2 separate regions of the Homo sapiens genome follow, and region 1 is linked to region 2. The links come from fine-mapping of genetic effects on gene expression. A gene starts in region 2. The other region holds a variant in brackets. All regions are shown on one strand. Distances are between the middles of the regions.

Region 1 (2,915 bases), 130 kb before region 2:
ATTGATGTCCCCCCAAAATTCATATTTGAAATCTAGCCCCCAGGTAATAGTATTAAGAGGTGGGATCTTTGGAAGGTAATAGGTCATGGGGGAGGAGCCCTCATAAACTGGATTAGTGCCCTTGTAAAAGAAGCCCGCGAGAGATCCCTCACCCCTTCTACCACGTGAGGACACAGTGAGAAGATGCCATCTATGAACCAGGAAGTGGGCCTTCCCCAGATATTGAATCTGCTGCTGCCTTGATCTTGGACTTCACAGCCTCCAGAACTGTGAGAATAAATTTCTGTTGTTTGTAAGCCACCCAGTATGTATTTTGTTATAGCACTTTAAATAGACTAACACTGTCTCACACCTCTGCTCAACAATTATGACTTGATTTTAGCAGCATGGTAAGGCGGAGACTGTTTATTAGATTTCATATCCTAGTATTTAGTATACATACAGAAGGTGATAATAAATACATGTTTTTCCCAATGAGTTTAGAACCACTGCCCTTAGGTAGTAACACAGGTCAAAGAATAGTGCCAACTTCTAATGATGCCCTGCGTTAGATTGCAATAAGACTTGACAGTTTTCTCATCATTCAGTATGTTCACTTTTTAAAACCGGATTTAGTTCTACTAAATCTGCCTCATTTTAATCACAAGTCTTTGCTAGGAAATGTAGAGCTAAACCAAAGTAACACTATAACCATGGAGGAGGGACTGTGTCACACAAAGTCCACAGTGGGCCTGTGCGATCCCACATTGATTCATTTTGAGTGCATCCCCCCATGGTAGTCATTGGTTATAGCTCTATGGTCTGAGGAGATCACAAAGTTACAAATGAACTCTTTTACCTTTAGCCACAGTGACAGCCAACTGCAGCTGTATGAAGTCATGAGGAATTTCTTTAGCACAAAAATGTCAGGCCACCTTCAAGGAGAGAAGCTTCTTGTTTGTAAAGGTGAGGGATAAGCGGGAGTGGAAAAAATGTCATTCACACTTTACTCGTGAATATGTTCATGTATACTAATATGGTTTAAAAGTCAGCTGAGAGGCCTGGTATAGGTGGCTCACACTTGTAATCCAAACACTTTGGGAGTCCGAGCCAGGAGGAATGCTTGAGGCCAGGAGTTCAAGACTAGCCTGGGCAACACGGCAAAATATCATTTCTACCAAAAATTTTAAAAAAAAAAAATTAGGTGTGGTGGCACACACCTGAGAGGCTGAGCCCAGGAATTTGAGGCTGCAGTGAGCTATGATCATGCAACTGCACTCAATCCTGGGAAACAGAGCAAGACCTTGTCTCAAAAAAAAAAAAAAA[A/AAAAAAAG]GTTATCTGAAGTAATTTTAATTTTTTTATTTTGAAAATTTCATACATACCCGAGTATATTTATTACATATGTATTATTTAAAGTATAATAATATGGATGTGTATGTACCTACCACTCAGCCTAACAGACACTATCAATAATTTTAAAATACCTTATGTGTGTCTCTCATTCACATTTCCCTGTCTCCCCAGATATAAATACTATTTTGTTATTTATTTAGTTTTACTTCTTTTCACTGCTGAAGCCAGAATGGATTGTGATGTGTGAGAGAAAGAAATCTTTGTGTTAAGCCTCTAAAGTCTGAGTTATTTTTTATAGTCATAATAGAGAGATTAATAACTTGAATTTAGGTGCTGCCTAAACAAAATACTAATATGTGTGGCATTAACTTAGCAGGTCTGCAGTGAGAGGCACAGAAAGAAATATGGGAGGTTGGAAGCCTGGGATCCCTGTTATGCCATAGCAGACCAAGTGCTTACTAAGACTGTAGGTCAAAGGAAGGATGTTGGGAAAACAACGAATAATAATGTGTTGATATGGTTTGGCTATGTCCCTACCCAAATCTCATCTTGAATTGTAGTTCCCATAATCCCCACATGTCTGGGAGGGACCTAGTGGGGAGTAAATGAATCATATTGGAGGTTACCCCCATGCTGCTGTTCTCATGATAAGAGTGAGTGAGTTCTCATAAGAACTGACAGTTATATAAGGGGCTTTTCCCACTTTTGCTTGGCACTTTTCTTTCTTGCTGCCATGTGAAGAAGGACGTGTTTGCTTCCCCTTCTGCCATGATTTTAAGTTTTCAGAGGCCTCCCCAGCCATGCTGGAACTGTGAGTCAATTAAACCTCTTTCCTTTATAAATTACCCAGTCTCAGGTATGTCTTTATTAGCAGCATGAGAATGGACTACTAAATGTGTACTAAATGTTACTGGCTGCCTTTGGTAAGAGAGAATAAATTGATGAGCTTGCAATATAGCTAACTAGTTTGTAAGGAGAAATAAAAGGGAATAGAGAGAGTCTAGGAAAGAATCTAGAAATTTGGGGCATTGAAGGGCATTAAAGAGTTGGAAAGGCCAACTATTTCTAGGTCCCAAAAAGAAAGAGATAAGGCTGAGAAAAGTCAAGCCACAAAAGGCCACTAATACTCAGCCTTGTGGCAAGGATCAGATTATGGATAGGTGTTAACTTCACATCACCTTAATCAATTAGTTAAATAACCTGCATGGTAGCTGCCATTAGGCAGAGAGAGGTATGGGCCAAAGAAACAAATCATGCTCTGAAATTATATTATACATAGAACTGGCTACTATTTTGATGGAATTTATATAAACTAGGACTAAAAAGCCTTTGAACTGTAAAATCAGCTTTAGACACCCAATTTTGTTCAAACAGATTATGAGCTCTGAAAGCTATGCATCCCCAATAGAGGGCATAACCTCATCATCCACTTCGAATGTGGGCAAGAAGATGAAAAAGGAAGAAACTCCCACGGACTGGAGCCAGTGGCTACTAAGAAAAAATGGACAAGAACATTCCTCCCAAGAGCAGAGTCAGAGCCCAAGAAAGGAACCGACCCCATTCCCAGTGAAGAGGGCTTTCACCATATC
Region 2 (2,915 bases):
TTTCAACATAACTACATGTATGTCTGTGTATGTCTTAAAAAATACCCGAGAAAAGGTAAAATTCTGCATTAAAATACCTAGCAATTTAGTTCGATTCCATAAACACTGAAAGAAGTAACACTCTCACTTAACAGTCAACATTACAAGCAGTCTTTAATAATACCGCATTTAACTCCTTAGAGCTAGCACAAGTTGATCTAATGCCTATTTGGCCCTTTACCAAAAAAGCGGAGGGGGCTTTGTCTAACACCTGTATACACCTCCCTCCGTAGCATCCCGCTCATTCTAGCTTCTTAGGGAAACCATAGACAACGACGTTTCAGAGAGTGCCAGAGGTGAAGCCGACCCGAAACCACATTACAGAAAGGCTTCCTGTTTCAAACAGGTCCAATAAAGCCACCAAATTAAGTCTACGATTATAAAGAACTGCGAATCAGAAAATAATTCCATATAGGTGCAGTCTTCTATTACTTTTTTCCCCACTTTCGGAAATTTCAAAGAAAAATTGCTACATTCTTAAATATGAGGCCATTATTTCAAAGGCTGTAACAACCTGGAACGCAAATTCGTTAAATTATGATACAATAAGGCCAACCTCGAGGATCCTCGGTGGACTACTAGCGCACTTCCTTACAATTAGAAAGTGAAAAACTGGGTCAGCCCTAGAGTCACGCAATAATGCTGCGTCACGAAACTGCGCATTCCAAGAGAAACTTTTCTCAGGCCCAGAATTAAGTCGGAGGGATCCGCCGCGCAGCTCAATCCCTAGGAAGCATGAAAGAATGTATTGTAAAGAGTAAAATCACGCGCAATCCATCCCAATATAACCGCAGTTGTTCGTGGGCCTTCTTGCAGAGAAAGGCTGCCCAACCTTGACGGGGCCATGGGCGCTGCGGGAGGGCAAAAGACCACAGAGATCTGCGAAGCCAAAGTAAACAACGGGGTTGGGGCGGCGAGAATGATCAATAGCGATGCTCCGAAAGGACTCCGCGATAGGAATCGAGCGGGAAGGATTCCCTCCATCCTAACAGTCCATGGGTTAAGAGGCCGAAGCTTCCCTAAATACCACACTCCCGCGAGAGAAGGGACTGAGAACAACTTCTCAAACTATTCTCTCTCGAAATCGCTCCCTTCCTCGAAAATTCCATCTCTGAGACTCGGATGAGGTCCCCACCCCCTCCACCCTTGTCCCGTGACCGTCGCCCGCTCAGCCTCCCAGCCGAGTCCGCGGGGCCTGGGGCGCCCACCCCGCCCACCCAAGGGACCGCGCAGGGGTGAACTCCCCCGCGCCCCACCTGCGCCTTCCAGACCTCGGGCGCCCCGGCGTTGCCTCGAGAGCTCCCTGCGCGGCCGCCGCGGCACGGACCAGCTCCCACTCCCTTACACTGGGCGCCGCTGCGCTCGCCGGGGGCCGGTCCCGAGGTTCCCAAGGCCTCGCGCGCGCGCTTGCCGTGGCAACCAAGACGTTCCACGACGCGCGCTCTCGAACGCTTCGCGTCACGCGGCCGCGCGGCCCCGCCCGTCGGCCTCGCTCCCGCCACAGAGCCCGCAGCACGCCGCCGCCGCAGCCTAGGTCACGTGAGTACCCACGCGCGCGTCTTGCCAGCGGATTCATCACCGGCCTGCTCAGACTAGGTTCTGCCCACTCTGACCTTCTAAATGGTACGTGGGAGGACGTCCGTCCCCTTCGGACCCAAGAGTCACCGTAACACTCTAGAAGGGGAGAAAAGGAGCGAGGGCGGCAGGCGACAGAGAACCTCGCGAGTCAGCGGCCCCGCGCAGACCCCCCCAGGCACGGTCCCCTGCGGCCACGTCGGCTGCTCGGCGCCTGCGCAATCTCTTTCTCTCCAGCGAAACCGAGGCCTCCGGAGAGCCTAGTAGAGAGTGTGGGCAGTGAGCGCTTGTAGCCGCTAGAGGGAGCGCTGGGCACAGTGCACGAGAGACAATAAAGGCTGATTATCCCCTCAATGTCTCTGCAGCCTGAGCTTTGTGACTTCTGTATCCAGAGCACAGTTAATTTCCAAAAGCCCGCCTGCACCACGTGTTTTAAGTCTTGGTGTGTGTGTAAAGTCTATATCACTATCATAAAACTGTTAGTTCCTGATTCCGGGATACAAAGAGTAAAATCAAGATGAACATACTTTACCCTTCTTGACAAGTGTTTTTAAATTAGTAAAATATTGTAGATGACAGACTCTTCAATAGGGCTGCCTTAGGGAAAAAAAAACAGAAAAAAGAAAAAGCAGTATGTACTTGCCCGGAGCATTTAGAACCAGTTTTGTTGTTGTTGTGTTTTTGTTTTGTTTTGAGACAGAGTCTTACTATGTTGCCCAGGCTGGAGTGCAGTGGCATGATCTCGGCTCACTGCAACCTCTGCTTCCCAGGTTCAAGCGACTCTCATGCCTCAGCCTCCAGAGAAGCTGGAATTACAGCTGTGCACCACCACTCCCGTCTAATTTTTGTATTTTTAGTAGAGACGGGGTTTCACCATATTGGCCAAGCTGGTCTTGAAAGCTTGACCTCAAGTTAGCCAGGCTGGTCTCGAATTCCTGACCTCAAGCGATCCACCTGCCTCAGTTTCCCAAAGTGCTGGGATTACAGGCGTGAGTCACCGCGCCTGGCCTTAGGACCAGTTAAGTGACTCCCTCAAATCTCAGAAAGGTAGCAGTCAGTCATCCCAAAAAGCAAAACCTATTAGGAATATATTAATACAGTGGTTTCAAAATGATTTTGCTCTTATACCCCCAAAGGAGTCCCCAAAGACTATGACTGTATTCTCACTTCCACGTTTTTGGATTGACCATCACAATTTCTCATCTGACTTAAATAGTTACAAAAGAAGCAACTTCTGTTTTATTATAAATTAACATTTTAAAATAAAAGTTATATAACTTTTAAATGTAGCCAGTGGAATC

Alleles and levels. Positions count from the first base shown, and alleles are read on the strand shown. Sizes are in standard deviations (SD) of each study's normalised expression.
In carriers of allele A in region 1, the expression in neutrophils of the gene that starts at base 1,465 in region 2 tends to be lower than with AAAAAAAG alone (moderate effect, 0.56 SD a copy in CEDAR).

The links. PIP is the estimated chance that this variant, and not a neighbour inherited with it, causes the effect.
Region 1: its variant is the best candidate, but not a certain one, in a credible set for the expression of SPART in neutrophils (CEDAR, PIP 0.59).

What each region holds. Positions count from the first base shown.
Region 1 is chr13:36,217,810-36,220,724 of GRCh38, forward strand. The region is part of intron 6 of CCDC169-SOHLH2 (CCDC169-SOHLH2 readthrough); the gene reads right to left. Among named protein-coding and RNA genes, the nearest start is that of SOHLH2, 4.7 kb to the left of the region's middle. The variant A/AAAAAAAG (reference allele first, on the strand shown) is at 1,306.
Region 2 is chr13:36,344,930-36,347,844 of GRCh38, forward strand. It overlaps SPART (spartin), which reads right to left and starts at 1,465. Exons shown (of 9, transcript NM_015087.5): 1 at 1,296-1,465. It overlaps SPART-AS1 (SPART antisense RNA 1), which reads left to right and starts at 1,502. Exons shown (of 5, transcript NR_045181.1): 1 at 1,502-1,578. RefSeq lists a silencer at 1,314-1,363.